Linked DNA regions of Homo sapiens. The protein of the gene in region 1 purifies or fractionates together with the protein of each later gene. This does not show direct contact. Each region holds a gene or a part of one and is shown on either strand. Other genes may lie near its edges. The genes, in order: PTPN23, ARL1, NTPCR, PPP4R3B, GLUD1 and YTHDF2.

Region 1 (3,500 bases):
CTTCTGCCTCAGACTCCCAAAGTGTTGGGATTACAGACATGAGCCATCACGCCCAAACTTTTTTTTATTTTATAGAGATGGGAGTCTCACTATGTTGCCCAGTCTGGTCTTAAACTCCTGGGCTCAAGCAGTTGACCCACATCAGCCTCCCAGAGCATTTCTATTTTTTAAAAATATGGTTCTTACAAACAACTCTGAAAAACAGGCACAGAAAATGAATCCCTGGCCACACAGTGAGTCAGTGGAGCAGCCAGGATATTTATGTTATTATTATTATTTGCAGCCTGTTAGAAGCAAAAGGATGTTTTTAAAACCCTAACAAAATCCTCTGTGACTGCTGATCACTCCTCCACTAAAAAAGAAGAAAGAGGCTGGGTGAAGTTCCTGGAGTAAGGGACAGAGACCTTGTCCCCATTTCGCTATGGTCTGGGACTCTGCAGAACTCGGAACAGTCTAGCGGGAAGTATGAAGCTCCAATGGAGGCTGAGAAGGCAGGCCCAGCAGCAGACGAGGAGAAAGAACCAGAGGCCCTGACAGGACCCCAGTACCTACACAACTAACAGGAAGAAGACCAGAGAACCTCCAAAAACAGCCAGGCTTTGAAGTAGCTGGGGATCCTTTTCTGAAGGAATAAAAGAAGACCCGTGGAGAGCTCTCAGTGAGGGCACGTCCAGGGATCACAGCCACCGAGGGGAAAAAGAAAAGAAAGGAGTTACCAGATTACAAGTGGGAAACAGTGCCCCTGAGTTGCTGTGAAATCTGGGCTTGGTTTTTGTTTTTTGTTTTTTTAAATTGTCTTGCTCTGTCAGGCAGGCTGGAGTGCAGTGGTACTATCATAGCTCAATGAAGCTTCAAACTCCAAGTGATCCTCCCACCTCAGCCTCTTGTGTGGCTAGGACTACAGCTGTGTGCCACCATGCCCAGCTATTTTTTTTTTTTTTTTTTTTTGAGACGGAGTCTCGCTCTGTTACCCAGGCTGGAGTGCAATGGCGCCATCTCGGCTTACTGCAACCTCCACCTCCTGGGTTCAAGCAATTCTCCTGCCTAAGCCTCCCAAGTAGCTGGGACTACAGGTGCATGCAGCCATACCCAGCTAATTTTTGTATTTTTAGTAGAGATGGGGTTTTGCCATGTTGGCTAGGCTGATCTCGAACTCCTTTTTTTTTTTTTTTTTTTTTTTGAGACGGAGTCTCGCTCTGTTACCCAGGCTGGAGTGCAGTGGTGCCATCTCAGCTCACTGCAAGCTCCACCCCCCCGGGTTCACGCCATTCTCCTGCCTCAGCCTCCTGAGCAGCTGGGACTACAGGCACCCGCCACCACGCCTGGCTAATTGTTTGTATTTTTAGTGGAGACGGGGATTCACCGTGTTAGCCAGGATGGTCTTGATCTCCTGATCTCGTGATCCACCCGCCTCGGCCTCCCAAAGTGCGGGGATTACAGGCGTGAGCCACTGCGCCAGGCCCTGGTCCCGAACCCTTGACTTCGTGATCCACCCGCCTTGGCCTCCCAAAGTGCTGGGATTACAGGCGTGAGCTACCATGCCTGGCCCCAGCTAATTTTTATTTTTATTTTGTAGAGACAGGGGTCTTGCTATGGTGCCCAGGCTGGTCTCGAACTCCTGGCCTCCAGCTATCCTCCCACCTCGGCATCCCAAAGCGCTGGGATTACAGGCATGAGTCACCATGCCCAGCCTAGGCTTGGCTTTTTTCATGTGTAAAATGGGGTTAATATCACTTGCTACGTCTAGCTCAGAGCTGTCATAAGGATTCGAGTTATTTCCCAAACAGGGAAGGAAGATGCTCAGGTGAAAATATTGTTTACAATAGGCCAAGACCTGTACTAAGAACTTAACAAGCATTAGAACGACAAACTCTGCATGTTCTCACTTTTTTGTGGGAGCTAAAAATTAAAACCACTGAATTCATGGAAACCGACAGTAGAATGATGAATACCAGAGGCTGGGAAGGGTAGTGGGAGTGGGGTGGGGGAGTGGAGTGGGAATGGTTAATGAGTACAAAAATATAGTTAGATAGAATGAATACAATCTAGTATTTGAGGCTGGGCGTGGTGGCTCACACCTGCAATCGCAGCACTTTGGGAGGCCAAGGCGGGTGGATCATCTGAGGTCAGGAGTTCGAGACCACCCTGTCCAACATGGCAAAACCCAGACTCTACTAAAAAGACAAAAATTAGCTGGACATGATGGCAGGTGCCTGTAATCCCAGCTACTCGGGAGGCTGAGGCAGTAGAAACGCTTGAACACGGGAGGCGGAGGTTGTGGTGAGCCGAGATTGTGCCACTGTACTCTAGCCTGCGTGACAAGGCGAAACTCTGTCTCAAAAAAAAAAAAAAAAAAGATCTAGTAGTGACAGCAAAACAGGGTAACTATAGTCAGCAATAATTTATTACATTTAAAAATAAAAGTATAATTGGATTGTCTGTAACACAAAGAAAGGATAAATGCTTGTGGTAATGGATACTCCATTTACCCTGATGTGATTACTATACCTGTTTGGCCATATCAAGTACCCCATTAATTTTTGTGGGTACATAGTAGGTGTATATACTTATATACCTACTTAAGCCCAGGTGTTTGAGACCAGCCTGCGCAACACAGTGAGACCTTATCTCTAAAAAAAAATAAGCAAAATTAGCAGAGTGGTGCGTGCCTGTGGTCCCAGCTATTCAGGAGGATGAGGTGGACGGACCACTTGAGACCTGGAGGCAGAGGCTGCAGTGTGCCAAGATCGTGCCTTTGCACTCCAGCCTGGGTGTTACAGCAAGACCCCATCTCTAAAAAAATAAAAATAAAAAAGAACTTAGAAGCATTAATTTTGATTCTCAGAAGCTTATGAGGTATATTATTAGTTCCATGTTTCAGGTAAGAAAAGTGAGGACTACATTAGTTATGTAATCTTTGTGACAGCTCAAGATCATTCAGCTATTAAAGGAATGAGAGGGGACCTAAACCAAGGTCTGATTCCAATAGCTATGCTATTTCCATGATGCTACTCTGCTATTTTACTGAGCACCAAACAGTAGAGAATTTTGTAGCTAGGTGAGATCACTGGAAACAACCATCCTGGTCCTGCCATGATTTTGCAGATTAGAGAAAGGGCAAACCACAGATAAGCAATGATAGTGCTAGGACCCCAAGACAGATTTCCTGACTCCAGACCTAATATTAATCCCTCTGTGTCACCTTCTCTTGTACTAGTATGTTCTCATTCTTCTATGTATGCTTTGCTCTTAATTTAACATTTGGAATTTCATCATGCTAATTAAAGCAATAAGACAAGAAGAAAAGGCAATTAAAAGGCATCACATGTGTTAGTTTTACCTTTATTCACCAGTTACATTATGTTTCTTTTTTCTCCAGTTCCAGAGTTGACTCAAATGTAGGGCATTCCTTGGGCTACTCTAAGAAACAAACTTTTTTTTTTTTTTTTTGAGACAGGGTCTCTGACACCCAGGCTGGAGTGGCGAGATCTTGGTTCACC
Region 2 (3,500 bases), on another chromosome or scaffold:
CTGTTGTTATTTATACTTTTTTCATTTGTTGCCTTGAATTTACTTAGAGAAGAGTAGTACATTTAAATTAAAGAGTTCATACAGTTTGCTCAAGATTTTTTAAATTATGCCTCTAATGTTAGTCTGTCACTCAGGGTATTTCTATATTGTTACTGTTTAAATTTATGGACTAAAACGAAAGAGGCTAGCCTCTAAGAAAGAAGAGCGTTTTGAACCCTGTAATGTCTGTTATTCCTTTTTGCTACCTTCAGTAAATTTTAGTGCCCTTAGTTTTTGCTTCTCAAAATCACCCATCTCTGTCTGGGCATCTCCTGCAGTGCACAGAGCAGCACAGTGGATAGTTTGGAGTTTCAGTGAGTGCTGCTTTACACCACACTCTTTGTTGAGACAGTGTCTTGCTTTTTTGCCCAGGCTGGAGTGCAGTGGCACATTCATAGCTCACTGCAGCGTCTACCTCTACCTCTACCTCCTGGGCTCAAGCGATCTTCCCACCTCAGCCTCCCAAAGTGTTGGGATTACAGGCATGAGCCACTGCACCCAGTCTACACCATTCTCTTGTCTTGCACATATAAACGATGTTTTTTACTGTTGGTGAACATTGTGATTACACTCCTACCTAATTCTAAGGGAGACATCATGAACTTGCATTTTAGTTTTTTGCTCAAATTTGTCATAGTATTGTTATTTTTTAATTGTAATAGACATACTTGCCAAATACTCAAAGGTATCACTTACCACTGCAGACTTAAATATAAAACAAAAGCTAATTGTCCAGTTATACCTGGAAGTTATTTTTTATTTATTTATTTTTTTGAGACAGAGTCTCACTCTATTGCCCAGGCTGAAGTGCAGTGGCAAGATCTCGGCTCACTGCAACCTGTGCCTCCCAGGTTCAAGCGATTCTCATGCATCAGCCTCCAGAGTGGCTGGGATTACAGGCATGTGCCACCACACCCGGCTAATTTTTGTATTTTTAGAAGAGATGGGGTTTCACAGTGTTGGCTAGGCTGGTCTCGAACTCCTGACCTCAGGTGATCCACCCGCCTTGGCCTCCCAAAGTGCTGGGATTACAGGTGTGAGCCACCGCACCCAGCCATGGAAGTTATTTTTTACCTATTTTTCACCTAAGAAGGATGGCAGAGAAAAGGGATGGGACACCTGCCCTTTGACCACCCAGCCATGACCTTATTACAAGTGAGTTCTGGAGGATGTCTGCAGATGGGCTGTGAGATTGAAAGCTGCAGCCATGGCTGTGTCCATGCTGTAGTTTAGAACTGAAGTTTAGCTTTTTTTCTTTTGGTCTGTTTATTTGCTGCCAGCCAAAATTCTGCTTTTTATAGTACATCCACAACTGTACTTTCTAAATACAGCTTTCGAACACTTTTAACTACTCTATTATGAGGGGAGTTTAATATAATAGGATTTCCATTGAGCTAAAAATTATGTTTTCCTTTTTATTTCTTTTTTAAATTCTTTTTTTAATTTATTTGAGCTAAAATTATATACTTTATTTGCAGAACTGCTGGCTTTTAAAAAATATCCTGAAGATGGTATTGATCTTGCTAATTGATGTTTTGTGCACACACCTGCACATGTGTGGGGGAGCAGAGCATACTATTTCGTCTTAAATGGTATAAAATCTCAACCAATAATGTGATTCAACAATTACCATTTCTTTTTAACTCGAATCCTAAGACAAATTATATATATATATATTTTAAACTCTAATAACAGTTACCATTAATTGCTGTAACTCAATTAGATAGGATATTTTGAAGGTGGAATGTATTAGTCTACACATACCACTGATTTGATTTCTCTTCCAGCCATTGGATTTAATGTAGAGACGGTGACGTACAAAAACCTTAAATTCCAAGTCTGGGATTTAGGAGGACAGACAAGTATCAGGTATGGTACAAAGACCAGGTTATTTGGTAGTATTTGACATTTATTGATTCTTTTAAGGGTTAAAATCAGTAAACCCGAATATGTGTTCTATTGTAATTTAAATGGAGCCACCTAGTTTAAAATGAGGTAAAATTGGGAACTATTTCCTTAGAGCATCCATTGAGTTAAAACTTAAGGAAGCCCAGTTTTCCAGATACCTGTTTAATGAAAATCTTTTCACGAAAATCTCAAGACCTTATTACTTCAGCTATTCTCAATTAGAAAGGACCCTCCATTTAGTTCTTGTCAGTCTCTCCTCTCTGAAACACATTGTTTTGGAATTCATTAAAGTACCTTGCAGGCATACCATTTAGGGCTAATATAAAAATAAATGCCATTGGCCGGGCATGGTAGCTCACGCCTGTAATCCCAGCACTTTGGGAGGCCGAGGTGGGCGGATCATCAGGTCAGGAGTTGGAGACCAGCCTGACCAACATGGTGAAACCTCGTCTCTACTAAAAATACAAAAATTAGCTGGGCATGGTGGTGCGTGCCTATAATTCCAGCTACCTGGGAGGCTGAGGCAGGAGAATTGCTTGTACCAGGACTTGGGAGCTGGAGGTTGCAGTGAGCTGAGATCGCGCAACTGCACTCCAGCCTGGGCTACAGAGCAAGACTCTGTCTCAAAAAAAATAAATGAATAAATAAAAAATAAATGCCTTCTGAAGTTCAGGTCTTCTGCTTAGCATTTTGGGCTTGACATGGCAACAGTGAATGTTTGATGACCGTCAGTAGTTGGTCACGATAGTACCATCTTAAAAGATTAGTAATGCATTCTCCAAACATTCTGACTTCTTTTAACTCATTTCTTGAATCACGTTTCTTTTTTTTTAAATTGTGCAGCCTCCCAAGCCAGAGTAGGCTCAGAGAGACTCCATTGAATCACTTTTGAGTTTATTTATAATTTTAGCCATTTCTACTGCTTGATGTCAGTGATTAATTTCATGACTGTTAAATAAAATCACGTTTAAAAAGTTTATTCCTCTTAAGGGGTGCCTAGTTAAAGATTTGTTTAAGAAGATGTAATGATCAGGTCTGTGTACAACTTTTCTATCAGTATATTTAGTGATTTCATAGATTATAAATAAATTTTGTCAGCCTGAAGTCTGAATGAATTCATTTGGAAACTCCCTGGTCCTGTGAGTCAATGTTTATCAACATTCTTTTTTTTTTTTTTTTTTTTTTTTTTGAGACAGAGTTTCACTCTTGTTGCCCAGGCTGGAGTGCAATGGCACCATCTCAGCTCACTGGAACCTCTGCCTTCCTGGTTGAAGTGATTTTCCTGCCTCAGCCTCCCGAGTAGCTGGGATTACAGGCACCTGCCACCATGTCCAGCTAATTTTGTATTTTTAGTAGAGATGGGGTTTCTCCATGTTGGTCAGGCTGGTCTCGAACTCCCGACCTCAGTTGATCTGCCCTCCTCAGCCTCCTAAAATGCTGGGATTACAGATGTGAGCCACCGTGCCCAGCCAATGTTTATCAACATTCTTTTGACTCCATCACATCTGAGGGATATGGTACATATATCCACCAGAAACAGTGAATCATTAAGG
Region 3 (2,772 bases), on another chromosome or scaffold:
TGTCTGCAGGAGAGCAAGCCAGGAGGACATGGGCCTGGACGACACGGCCTCGCAGCAAAGTGTGTCAGACGAGCAGTGACGGGCGTGCGGCCGGGCGGGGAGGCTGGCTCCCCCACACCTCCCACCTGCATTGCTCTCCCTCGTGCTCCCCAAATCACCACAACCAACCAATACCGCGATCCATGAGGGACTCCTCCTGTGGAAAAGGAGAGCTGTTCCAGAACACAGAACTGATCTCAGGTTTTTGAAAAAAAAAAAAAAAAAAAAAAAAAAATCAAACAACAACAACAAAAAAACCTCACATGATGGGGAAACAAAAAAAAGCAACAAAGAAGCCACACCACACCTCCCTGGCCAGGCACAGCGCTGCCCAGAGCGGCACACCGCGGACAGCACCACACATGTTCCAGAATCTGAAATCTCAAAAGCCATTCACTAACTTAAAACAACTCAACAGAGCCATGAAACAAATGCCCTGATGAAAATAAGACAACTGCATGTTACATCATCGGCACTTTATACATTACTGTTACCATGAAAAAGAAATGAACAGCAGCACGTCTGATACCATCAGCTGGGCAGATGCATTAAGGTTAAATCTAAGTGTCAAGAAAACCCTATTTCTTTATAATATTTATGCAGCTGTTAAGCGTAACATGGTGGCAGCTTCACAACAAGAACCGTGATCATGCATGCAGTCATGTCTCCAGTATTCTGTGAAAAGCCAGGATACGTTAGGATGTGAGTTTAGAAACTGAGTCCATTCGGTGCATGGAAATCCACCGCGGAGTCACACAATGCTCCTCACTGTAGTCCAGGCGATTGGTGGGCCGCCAGCACCCTGCGGGCTTCACAGGGACGCGTGCTTGTTCTCCAAGCCCCGCAACCCTTACTGTGCACACAACATCGCACACACCTTTGTTTTTGAAATTAAAATGTTTATAGTTATTGCTGCGTCCAGTGTTTTGAGTTATACTGAAGCTTCTCATTTCTACAAGTATATCTTTTATGGTGAGAACGACATTTGGGTAAATTCTGAGACAACTTTTCCCATCTTCAAGACCCCAGGAACCTGTATCCTTGCTGGGGTAGAGGTCCCAAAATGCAGTCCATAGAGTATCACTGGCCTGGTGAACCATCCCTTTTCAAAAGACAATAGTTAGAAGGAAATACTCAATTTTAAACAGTCACACAAATTTCTTCAAAGTATTTAGGATTTGGAAATTTGAGGAGAGGGTTGGGGGAAGGGTATTGTAGAGAATCTCTTGCCCCTTGGAAAGTAAATGGTAATGCTTTTCTAATTTTTTTTTTTGTAAACTAAGAATCAGCAATTAATAAAAGCAAGTGTACTCTATAATCACAGACAGAAGGTTCTTATTTTCAGGTCAGCACTCCCTAGAGGTGCAAACTTTATTTAATTTAAATGCAGTTGTTTGTCTAATGGGAAGCTGATAGGGCCTTGCTGCAGTTCTCTAAGGTGGCCAAATTAAACTTGGCTGGCAGCTCCTGTAATCCTCTTGGGCAACTTTACAGCCAAGCCCCAAGGGCTAAATGGCAGGCCTGGAGCTGTGAGTGTGGCCTCCCCACGGAGGGTGACTCCTTGAGTTCAGTGAGGAAAACCACGGTGCCTGGCAGTGGTCAGCCAGGAGTATGACTGGCCACTCCTTAGGCATCCAGAAGTAGGAAACACAGAAAGCATTCCACAAAACGGGGAATCTCCCCAAAGAGCTAGAAACCCAGGCTGGAAGGAAATGGCAGCGCAGGCAAGAGAGCAAGAGCACCCTGGGTGCTCCTCCATCCCGTTTCTCTGGGGAGGTTCATGAGGTGCTTCTTCAACAGTTATTCTGTTCATTGCTTATCACAGTTCACGAGTTCTCGTGGCATCTTTTGTGGGGAGGAGGGAGGATGAAAGTGACACAGTGTATCTACAACACTAAGGTCACATTAATCAGATAGGAATGCAGTGACGCTCTGCACCGTCTATGAGAGCGGGCATCTCGAGTGTGCATACCGAGGCACAGATGTGCACACACATCCGCAGGCAACTGCACCCACAGAGAAAAGGTGGCAGTATTGGAGTCACCCCAGGATTCTTGGGGGCTGTTTGACCAGCCATCAACAGTGCAGCCATACTTCTTTTTCTTTTTTATCGTGGTACACAACTTTTATATTTACAACTCATGAACTTGTTAATCTGGTCCTTCATCTAGTCAGCTATGTATCAGAAAGGACTTCCTGCAAAATGTTATATTCTAAGCCCCCATTTAGAGGAGGCATCCCTAAACTGACATTTCTTGCTAGAGTTGTTCAAATATTCTGCCAGTATATAGCTAAAGAGTTATTTTCCAGTTCAAGAGTTATTTGGGGGCTGGGCACGGTGGCTCACGCCTGTAATCCCAGCACTTTTGTAGGCTGAGGCAGGCAAATCATGAGGTCAGGAGTTCGAGACCAGCTTGGCCAACATGGTGAAACCCCGTCTCTACTAAAAATACAAAAAATTAGCTGGGCGTGGTGGCGGGTGCCTGTAATCCCAGCTACTCAGGAGGTTGAGGCAGGAGAATCGCTTGAACCCAGGAGGCGGAGGTTACAGTGAGCCGAGATAGCACCACTGCACTCCAGCTCAAGCGACAGAGTGAGACTCTGTCTCAAAAAAAAAAAAAAAAAAAAGAGTTATTTGGACACAGATCAAAATGGTTTCTCCTCTAAAGATAATATTAAAACCATAGCACTTGGTTTTATATAAATCATGTGGCCAATTTGGCATTATTGATT
Region 4 (3,500 bases), on another chromosome or scaffold:
AAGTGTTGAGATTACAAGTGTGAGCCACTGTGCCTAGTATGACTCTTGTTTTTTATTAAGATATGTTGCCCAGGCTGGGGTGCAATGGCTACGCACAGGCACAATCATAGCACCCTACAGCCTCAAACTCCTGGCCTTAAGTGATCCTCCAGCCTCAGCCTCCCAAGGAGCTGGGACCACAAGCACACGCCACCACACCTGGCTTTGACTCTGCTTTTGATTTAGTCAGTATCAGTGGGACTGATTTGAAGTAACTTAAAATTTCTGTCACACCTATCAGGTATGTTATTTCATGTTGTATCATATAATGATTCTCTTCTCTTTCCAACATGTTTAAATGCTTAAGTTTATTGGGTAAGTACATCTTCTTCCATTAACGACTTCAGTACTATGCACAGTAAGGAAGAAAGTGATGTGAATCAATAATGACTTTTCAATATCCAGTCATATGACATTCAGCTTGACTCATTCTAACTCCTTTTAGGCTCACAATTTGGTACTTCATTTATGAAAGAAAAGATGTATCTTGAGCACACAATTTAGTAGTTGGCTCATTTTAAAACTATAATGTTAAAAGAAGAATGTTAAACATTCCCCTCTGAATTTACTCAATTTTTTTTTTTGAGACAGAAAAATCGCTTTGTCTCTCCACCTGGAGTGCAGTGGTACAATCATGGCTTACTACAGTCTCGACCTCCGAAGCTCAAATGATCCTCCCGTCTCACCTCCAGAAGTAGCTGGCACTATAGCTGCGCACCACCACACCTGGATAATTTTTGAATTTTTTTTGGTAGAGACAGGGATCTTGCTATGTTGTGCAGGCTGTTCCCGAAATCCTCAGCTCAAGGGATCCTCCTGCCTTGGCCTTCCAAAGTGCTGAGATTGCAGGTGTGAGCCACCATGCCTGCCATAGTCAACATATTTTAATACAGCAAAATGGCCTATAAACATCTCATTCACTTACTCATTAAGTTTTTAATAAAAAACCCGCTAATGGAAACAAAAAATTTAACCCATTACTGCAGTCCCAGCTACTGGAGAAGCTGAGATGGGAGGATCACTTGAGCCTAGGAGTTCAAGCTCAGCCTGGGCATCATAGCAAGATCCCATCTCTGAAAACAATTTTTTAAATTTTAACTCCACTACTGAACAACAGACTTCATGTGATATTTGGAAATTAATAACTTTCTAGACTAATTTATTGAATAACCTAAATGATGCCTTTTACAAAGGATAATTCTAACAAACATAGAAAAATGTTACTGTATTTGGAAATCTCAATTTGTGTAACTTCAAATAACTACAAATTAAGCTGAATACAGCCACTGCTCACACCTGTAATCCCAGCACCATGGAGGTGCTGAAGCAAAAGGATCACTTGAGGCCAGGAATTCAAATCAGCCTGGGCCACACAGTGAGACCGTCTCTACAAACACAACAACAACAAAGTTTTGTAATAAATTTTTTAAAGGTGCAAATTTAGCCTGGACAACATAACGAGACCCCATCTTTACAAATTTTTTAAAAAATTAGTAAGGTTGGCCGGGCTTGGTGGCTCACACCTGTAATCCCAGCACTTTGGGGGGCCGAGGCGGGCGGATCACGAGGTCAGGAGATCGAGACCATTCTGGCTAACACGGTGAAACCCCATCTCTACTAAAAAATACAAAAAAATTAACTGGGCGTGGTGGCGGGCGCCTGTAGTCCCAACTACTTGGGAGGCTGAGGCAGGAGAATGGTGTGAACCCGGGAGGCGAAGCTTGCAGTGAGCAGAAATCGCACCACCACACTGCAGCATGGACGACAGAGCGAGACTCCATCTCAAAAAAAAAAAAAAAATTAGTCAAGCATGGTGGCTCACATCCATAATCCCATCTACTCAGAAGGCTGAAATTGGAGGATCGCTTGAGCCCAGGAGGTTGAGGCTGCAGTGAGCTGTGATCAAACCACTGTACTCCAGCCTAAGGGACAGAAGAAGACCCTCTCAAAAAAATTATTTTCAAAAGTGCAAATTGAAGATTTGGGTGAAAATATGAAAAACCATGTCTATTACAAAGAAACTAAGTTTAACATAACCCCTAAATGGCCCTATGATTTCAATTAGAAAAGTGTACTCAATTTAAACAAAAATAAACAGGTAACATCATTCACACAAGTTTTTCACTCTTCTTCAGTGTTTCCATATTCTTCTCATTACCAGAGTTCTCTTATACACCTGAATGTTATGTTGCCAAAAAAAAAAAGCCCAACGAAAAAATAAACTATTACAAAACCCCAAATAGTATATTATTTAAATGTGATTACAGAAAACATTTCCAAATGGTGTAATTTTTTTAAATAATGCATTTTTTCCAATACTTTATACTAAGTGTATACAAAAATGCTAATTATCTAGAACTAATTTTCTAGTAGAGCAACATTATACATGAAATTACCTACATATCCTAATGATTCTAAAGTATTCACAGAATCACTATGTATTTTTAACTTATGTTGGGTGACTATTTTAAATACAAACCTACTCCATAATGTGATGTTTCCAAAGTAACAACAGCTAAAAGATCTTATATACAATCTGAGAAGAATCCATTATTAAACCTAAATTTGTAGGGAACTGTTTATGACTTAGTTACATTTAAGAACAAAGTTCCTGATAATTATATTCATGCAGATAAGGGAAATATGGTAAAAAAAAAAAAAAAATTAGTATTTCTTTCCCCACAAAGAAGCAAGCAAACAAAAACAAACTAAAAGTGATCATCTGGTAAAAACTCGGTATAAAGACAGAGATTAAGAGCTGCCTGGCTGACTGAGAAATTAAATTTACTTAAATGTCTACCTTACAATGTCTAAGGTATAGGAAACATCTTCAGGTTTTCAATTCAGGACAAATGTTTAATTTGCTTCTCCATCAAAAAAGACACACAATATTTTCTAAACAGAGAAAAAAGCTATGAATTGAATATTGAAAATTTTAAAGTATTTCAAATAACTGATTAAGAATGTGTTATATACATAATTGTTCTAACAGTAAGACTTTGTAATAATAAGCTGCACAACAGACAGAATTTTATTCCTCCAACTACGAAGTACTTGTTTCTGGGCATCCAAATTTTCATAAACCTTGAAGTGGGCACTGACGCTGTAAATGTAATCCTAAAATAATTTATCTTCCTTCAAAAATCTCTGCCATCGTGACTTTACATACCACACACAAAAAAGAATACCTGGAAATAATTCAAATGTATAACAACAAGTGTATGTCATACATAAGAATACTATACAGAGTTTAAAAAGAAAACTAGATCTACATTGTTAACATGAACGAATATTCAAAATGAATGTGTGAAAAATGCAAGCTGCAGAATACATGTAAGAGTATGACATCCACTGTGTAAAGTTTAAAAACACACAACAGACTACATATTATTTATGGATACATACATATGCAGAAAAGGTATAAAAGCATGTACACAAAGAATACACATCAACTTCAGAAT
Region 5 (3,500 bases), on another chromosome or scaffold:
AACCCCCATCTCCACTTTGCAGAGCTAACCACTGCTACCAAAGATACTCTGCTCACACAGAAGCACAGGACTCTTACCCACACATACCTTTTTAAAAATACTTCATTAAATACTTTCGTTACTCTACTCTTAGATGAACTTGAATGTCATGTTATATTAAGTATCAAGTTATATTAAAAACTTCCTTTTTCAAAAGTGGCAGAATACAACATTGAGTCTTCCCATCCAAGACAATTGTAAAGCCTCTTCCTGTCTCAGGCTCTGTTTTGGTGACATGCTCAAGTCTTATAGTAGATTTTAAGACACTCATGAATGGGATGTGTATGTACCTTGATTTAGTAGTGCTTAAATACTTGTTGAAGGAATGATAGCTTTAGGCTGAGCTAGCTCTACTTTTGTGATGTTATTTGTACTTACTTGATGTTCAATCCCTACACTCTTGTTTTTTCTGTCAGAAAATATGGTCTACTTTGCCGGGCGTGGTGGCTCACGCTTGTAATTCTAGCACTTTGGGAGGCCAAGGCAGGGAGATCACTTGAGGTCAGGAGTTTGAGACCAGCCTGACCAACATGGAGAAACCCCATCTCTACTAAAAACACAAAATTAGCCGGGCGTGGTGGCACGTGCCTGGAATACCAGCTACTCAGGAGGCTGAGGCAGGAGAATCGCTTGAACCTGGGAGGTGGAGGTTGCGATGAGCCAAGATCTCACCATTGCACTCCAGCCTGAGCAACAAGAGTGAAACTCCGTCTCAAAAACAAACAAACAAACAAACAAAAAAAAAAACAGAAAATATAGTATATTTTATTGTATTTTCTAGGAACAGAAAGCTGAAAAAGTGAGTCTTGTCTCTATTGGTAAAAGTATACCTTAAATACATTCATACACACACTCCTAATTAGCATATTTTTGATTAAATGAGAATGTGCTTTGACTTTAATTCATTATGTTCCTTCAACAGAGAAATTGGACTTGACATTTCATTCTTTCAATTACCCCCTCTTACAGGATATTAATGCACACGCCTGTGTTACTGGTAAACCCATCAGCCAAGGGGGAATCCATGGACGCATCTCTGCTACTGGCCGTGGTGTCTTCCATGGGATTGAAAATTTCATCAATGAAGCTTCTTACATGAGCATTTTAGGAATGACACCAGGGTTTGGAGATAAAACATTTGTTGTTCAGGTAAAAACAAAAACAAAAAAAGTTTCCTTAATAACTGATAGACATTAAGTAAAGTTTTCAATGTTTTTAGAATTGTAATTTTAAAATTAAGTTATCTCAAATCTCTTAAATTTTAGAGTGGTGGTTTTCAGAGTAATAGATATTTTGTTTTTTGAACCTTGGTATGATTCATGTAACTAGAACTGATTTAAGTATCTCTCAAGTACATGTGAAACTGTTACCAACTTCAACCAAACTATCACCAAATTCAACCAAAATATTGGTTAGTATTCAAACTTGAAATTATAGCTAGAAGGGCAAGTCTCTTAACATAATTTTCTAAGTTTTGTAAGTATATAGAAAGGTTTACACACTGACCCAAATTTGTTTCATGTGTTAACATGTATTTTACTTAGGAGAATCTTAATTAAGTTGAAATTACTTGAAAATAGAAGTGGTGGCTGGACACAGTGGCTCATGCCTGTATTCCCAGCACTTTGGGAGGCCAAGACGGGTGGATCACTTGAGGCCAGGAGTTCGAGACCAGCCTGGCCAACATGGTGAAACCCTGTCTCTACTAAAAGTAGAAAAATTAAGCCGGGCGTGGTGGCTCACGCCTGTAATCCCATCACTTTGGGAGGCCAAGGTGGGCAGATCACGAGGTCAAGAGATCAAGACCATCCTGGCCAACATGGTGAAACCCGGTCTCCGCTAAAAATAGGAAAATTAGCAGGGTGTGGTGGTACACGCCTGTAGTCCCAGCTACTCTGGAGGCTGACGCAGGAGAATCACTTGAACCCGGGAGGTGGAGCTTGCAGTGAGCCGAGATTGCGCCACTGCACTCCAGCCTGGGTGACAGAGCCAGACTCTGTCTCAAAAAAAAAGAAAGAAAAATTAGCTGGGCATGATGGCGGCACCTGTAATCCCAACTACTCAGGAGACTAAGGCAGGAGACTCACTTGAACCCGGGAGGCAGAGGCTGCAGTGAGCCAAGATTGTGCCATTGCACTCCAGCCTGTGTGAGAGAATGAGACTCGGTCTCAAAAAAAAAAAAAAATTGTATTTCTCCAAATTAGTGACATCCCTTTTCACAACATAGGACATCTGATCATCAAGGACTGAGGACCTGGTGGTGTACTTAACACCACTGCCATTTATTGATTGATTGAGATGGAGTCTCACCCTATTGCCCAGGCTGGAGTGCAGTCTCGGCTCACTGCAACCTCCACCTCCCAGGTTCAAGTGATTCTCCTACCTCATTCTCCCAAGTAGCTGGGATTACAGGCACGGACCCCATGCCTAATTTTTGTATTTTTAGTAGAGACGGGGTTTCACCATGTTGGCCATGGCTGATCTCGAACTCCTGACCTCAAGTGATCCACCTGCCTCAGCCTCCCAAAGTGCTGGAATTACAAGCGTGAGCCACCATGCCCGCTCATCACATTCTTAAACAGAGAATTTTATTGTTGAAGAGAAACCAGTTAGTACATTGTTTCTTTTGGCAAAAGAATTTTGAGAATTGCTTCTAAATAAACAGAGTATGGATTTACATTGGTCAAAATATGACTCTTGCTGTCTATACCAGGACTTTAATTTTTGTGTTATGGGTAATTGTTCTTCACAGGGATTTGGTAATGTGGGCCTACACTCTATGAGATATTTACATCGTTTTGGTGCTAAATGTATTGCTGTTGGTGAGTCTGATGGGAGTATATGGAATCCAGATGGTATTGACCCAAAGGAACTGGAAGACTTCAAATTGGTATTAATACATTTTTATAGCATAGACACTAAATATAAATATTTAAAACTCTGGTGCAGCTATTAATTGTGATTTTCAATCAATGGCAGCAACATGGGTCCATTCTGGGCTTCCCCAAGGCAAAGCCCTATGAAGGAAGCATCTTGGAGGCCGACTGTGACATACTGATCCCAGCTGCCAGTGAGAAGCAGTTGACCAAATCCAACGCACCCAGAGTCAAAGCCAAGGTGACAACATTATAGAAACCAGAACCAACATTATCAATGTGAATGACGTTAGGGGGGTCATAGAAGAGTCTGATTGAGTTTTCTCTTTCTTTTTAGCAGCTTTATTGGCACATACTGCACATACCATACAGTTCCCCCATTTAAGGTACATAATTTAATGGCTTTTAGCTACCGGCACAGAGTTGTGCAACCATTACCAAAACAAACGCATCTGCCTGACACTCCTGTAAAAAAAAAAAACAAGCAAACAAAAAAAAAACCTAGATAAATAGAAAAGTGAAAGGTAGTTTTATACACTTGGCAGAGAAAAATAACCTCTATTTAACTTTAACTGAAACTGTGCT
Region 6 (3,500 bases), on another chromosome or scaffold:
TTGCAGTGCGGTAGGTTTGTTTACACCGCATTACCACAAACAAGTGAGTAATGTTTTGTGCTACATCCTTACAGTGGCTTCGACATCGCTAGGTGATAGGAATTTGTCAGCTCCATTATAATCTTACTGATCTGTCATTGACTGAAATGTCATTATATCGTGCATGAGTGTGTGTGTGTGTGTGTGTGTGTATTTTTTTTTTTTTTTTTTTTTGAGAGAAGGCCTCACTTTGTCACCCAGGCTGGAGTGTAGTGGCCTGATCACAACTCATTGCAGCTTTGACCTCCTGGGCTTAAGCATACTTTTTCTTGCAGCCTTCTAAGTAGCTGGGACCACACAGGTGTTCGCCACTATGCCTGGCTAATTAAAAAAACTTTTTGGAGAGATAAGGTTTCACTGTGTTGCCCAGGCTGTTCTTGAATTCCTGGGCTTAAGTGATCCTCCTCCTTTGGCCTCTCAAATTGTTAGGATTCCAGGTGTGAGCCACCATGCCTGGCCTAATGTTTAAAAATTTCTGGCTGGTGCGGTGGCCCATGCCTGTAATCCCAGCACATAACGGAGGCCAAGGCAGGTGGATCACCTGAGGTTGGGAGTTCGAGACCATCCTGACCAACATGGAGAAACCCCGTCTCTACTAAAAATACAAAATTAGCTGGGCATGGTGGCGCACGCATGTAATCCCAGCTACTCAGGAGGCTGAGGCAGAAGAATCGCTTGAACCCGGGAAGTGGAGGTTGCGGTGAGCCGAGATTGCGCCATTGCATTCCAGGCAACAAGAGCGAAACTCTGTCTCAAATTCTAGTAGAGTCAGGTTCTCAGTATGTTGCCCAGGCTGGTCTCAAACTGCTGGTCCCAGCCTCCCAAAGTGCTGGGCTTGTAGGCAGGAGGTACCATGGCCAAAATAGATATTTTTAATAAAATATTATAGCCTTGCTTTAAATTGGAGAACTGATGAAAAATACTTTGTCTCTTTATCTGGGGGAAGTTAGCATCTTAATTATATATGACTTGATGTTTCATATATATATGACTTGAAGTCTAAAGTCAAGTCATTAGACTTATTTAACTTATTCACGGCATTGGAGACTATAAAGGTTGATTCTATTAAACCATATCAAGCAATGGAAGTAATTTTTGTGTCATCACATCACTTTTAAAAACACATTTTCCTAGCCGGGCGTGGTGGCTCACGCTTGTAATCCCAGCACTTTGGGAGGCTGAGGCGGGCGGATCACGAGGTCAGGAGATCGAGACCATCCTGGCTAACACGGTGAAACCCCGTCTCTACTAAAAATACAAAAAATTAGCCGGGCATGGTGGCGGGCACCTGTAGTCCCAGCTACTCGGGAGGCTGAGGCAGGAGAATGGCATGAACCCGGGAGGTGGAGCTTGCAGTGAGTGGAGATTGTGCCACGGCACTCCAGTCTGGGCAACAGAGCGAGACTCTGTCTCAAAGAATTTTAGAATGAGACTCCGTCTCAAAGAATGACTCCCGTCTAAGCATTTTATATTGTCAGCTGGGGTGCTGAACTTTGGGTTTCTTTCAAGGTTCATGGGGGCATAGGAAAAACTAGTTGAGAGCTATATAGATTTAATTTTGTGGGAGAGATAAACATTTACCAGATTTTAATGTTAATAAAATTATATCCAGGTGAATATGAATATGCCTCAGTTGTGTTTTATGGCCCACTTGAAAGTGAAGGGAGAGGGAGGGATAGAACAGTGCAGTAGTAAGTAGAAAGGTTATTAAGCTTAAATAGAGGGAAGCTAAATAGGCAGATTTACTGTTTTTGAATATTATATGAAGAGATTGCATATGTGCAGACTTTAACATTGCCACCTTATGGCTTTTTGTATATTTCCTCCAGAGACTGAATTTTCTATTTTATTTTATTTTATTTTTAATTTTTATTTTTGAGACAGAATCTAGCTCTGTTGGCTAGGCTGGAGTGCAGTGGCGCGATCTTGGCTCACCCGGGTTCAAGTGATTGATTCTCCTGCCTCAGCCTCCTGAATAGCTGGGACTACAGGCATGTGCCACCACGCTTGGCTAATTTTTGTATTTTTAGTAGAGATGGGGTTTCACAATGTTGGCCAGCCCTGTCTTGAGCTACTGACCTCAAGTGATCCACCTGCCTCGGCCTCCCAAAGTGCTGGCATTACAGGCATGAGCCACTGCACCCAGCCGAGTTTTCTATTTTGTAATCATAGATTTAAAGTGAGGAGGGCCTAAGGTGGATGGGTGGATAGAGATGTCGACATTATTTCTAGTTATTTAAGCCACAGACCAGATCTGTCTGGACTTGTAGTTTCCTAATTTATTCATAGTTAATATCTTTAATGTTTTTATTTGAGACAGAGTTTTGCTCTTTTGCCCAGGCTGGAGTGAAGTGGCGTGACCTTGGCTCGCTGCAACCTCTGCCCCCTGGGTTCAAACAATTCTCCTGCCTCAGCCTCCTGAGTAGCTGGGATTATAGGTGCCTGACACCAGGGCTGGCTAGTTTTTTATTTATTTTTAATTTTTATTTTTTATTGAGATGGAATCTCCCTCTGTTGCTCAGGCTGGAGTGCAGTGGTGCGATCTCAGCTCAGTGCAACCTCCACCACCCAGGTTCAAGCGATTCTCCTGCCTTAGCCTCCTGAATAGCTGGGACTACAGGTGTGTGCCACCATGCCCAACTAATTTTTTGTATTTTTAGCAGAGATGGGGTTTCACCATGTTAGCCAGGATGGTCTCGATCTCCTGACCTGGTGATCCGCCCACCTCAGCCTCCCAAAGTGCTGGGATCACAGGCGTAAGCCACTGTGCCCAGCCAATTTTTTTTTTTTTTGGGATTATGGGCGTGAGCCACTGAGCCTGGCCGACAATTTATAATTGTATATATTTATGGGGTACAAAGTAATCTTAATTTTTTCAAAGAACCAACTTTTGTTTTTTTTTTTCCTATTATATATACTTTAACTCATGCCAGCTCATATCTTTATTATTATTATTATTTTTTAAATTTATTTATTTTATTTTTTTTTGAGACGGGGTTTCTCTCTTGTTGCCAAGGCTGGAGTGCAGTGGTGTGATCTCGGCTCACTGCAACCTCCATCTCCCAGGTTCAAGCGATTTTCCTGCCTCAGCCTTCCTAGTAGCTGGGATTACAGGCATGTGCCACCACGCCCAGCTAATTTTGTATTTTTAGTAAGAGACGGGGGTTTCTCCATGTTGGTCAGGCTGGTCTCGAACTCCCGACCTCAGGTGATCCGCCCACCTCGGCCTCCCAAAGTGCTGGGATTACAGGCATGAGCCACTGTGCCCGGCCCAATTTTTTATTTTTATTTATTTTTATTTTTATTTTTTTGAGACGGAGTTTTGCTCTGTCACCCAGGCTGGAGTACAGTGGCGCGATCTCAGCTCACTGCATCCCCTGCCTCCTGGATTTAAGCAGTTCTCTGCCTCAGCCTCCCAAATGGCTGGGATTACAGGCGCCCACCACCACGCCCGGCTAATT

The links.
Region 2: the proteins of PTPN23 (region 1) and ARL1 purify together in Homo sapiens (affinity purification with mass spectrometry; one large-scale study listed by BioGRID and IntAct). This does not show direct contact.
Region 3: the proteins of PTPN23 (region 1) and NTPCR purify together in Homo sapiens (affinity purification with mass spectrometry; one large-scale study listed by BioGRID and IntAct). This does not show direct contact.
Region 4: the proteins of PTPN23 (region 1) and PPP4R3B fractionate together in Homo sapiens (co-fractionation; one large-scale study listed by BioGRID). This does not show direct contact.
Region 5: the proteins of PTPN23 (region 1) and GLUD1 purify together in Homo sapiens (affinity purification with mass spectrometry; one large-scale study listed by BioGRID and IntAct). This does not show direct contact.
Region 6: the proteins of PTPN23 (region 1) and YTHDF2 fractionate together in Homo sapiens (co-fractionation; one large-scale study listed by BioGRID). This does not show direct contact.

Annotation. Positions count from the first base shown.
Region 1 is NC_000003.12:47,387,521-47,391,020, reverse strand, and holds part of PTPN23 (tyrosine-protein phosphatase non-receptor type 23), read right to left. Parts: intron 1-3,500. UniProt on the Homo sapiens protein: Plays a role in sorting of endocytic ubiquitinated cargos into multivesicular bodies (MVBs) via its interaction with the ESCRT-I complex (endosomal sorting complex required for transport I), and possibly also other ESCRT complexes.
Region 2 is NC_000012.12:101,401,273-101,404,772, reverse strand, and holds part of ARL1 (ADP-ribosylation factor-like protein 1), read left to right. Parts: intron 1-1,826; coding exon 1,827-1,908; intron 1,909-3,500. UniProt on the Homo sapiens protein: GTP-binding protein that recruits several effectors, such as golgins, arfaptins and Arf-GEFs to the trans-Golgi network, and modulates their functions at the Golgi complex.
Region 3 is NC_000001.11:232,981,611-232,984,382, reverse strand, and holds the end of NTPCR (cancer-related nucleoside-triphosphatase), read right to left. Parts: 3' UTR 501-2,772; downstream 1-500. Other genes in the region: PCNX2 (pecanex-like protein 2), read left to right, coding at 1-79. UniProt on the Homo sapiens protein: Has nucleotide phosphatase activity towards ATP, GTP, CTP, TTP and UTP. Hydrolyzes nucleoside diphosphates with lower efficiency.
Region 4 is NC_000002.12:55,611,123-55,614,622, forward strand, and holds part of PPP4R3B (serine/threonine-protein phosphatase 4 regulatory subunit 3B), read right to left. Parts: intron 1-3,500. UniProt on the Homo sapiens protein: Regulatory subunit of serine/threonine-protein phosphatase 4 (PP4). May regulate the activity of PPP4C at centrosomal microtubule organizing centers.
Region 5 is NC_000010.11:87,060,344-87,063,843, reverse strand, and holds part of GLUD1 (glutamate dehydrogenase 1, mitochondrial isoform a precursor), read left to right. Parts: intron 1-1,008; coding exon 1,009-1,188; intron 1,189-2,791; coding exon 2,792-2,929; intron 2,930-3,018; coding exon 3,019-3,156; intron 3,157-3,500. UniProt on the Homo sapiens protein: Mitochondrial glutamate dehydrogenase that catalyzes the conversion of L-glutamate into alpha-ketoglutarate. Plays a key role in glutamine anaplerosis by producing alpha-ketoglutarate, an important intermediate in the tricarboxylic acid cycle.
Region 6 is NC_000001.11:28,760,940-28,764,439, forward strand, and holds part of YTHDF2 (YTH domain-containing family protein 2), read left to right. Parts: intron 1-3,500. UniProt on the Homo sapiens protein: Specifically recognizes and binds N6-methyladenosine (m6A)-containing RNAs, and regulates their stability. M6A is a modification present at internal sites of mRNAs and some non-coding RNAs and plays a role in mRNA stability and processing.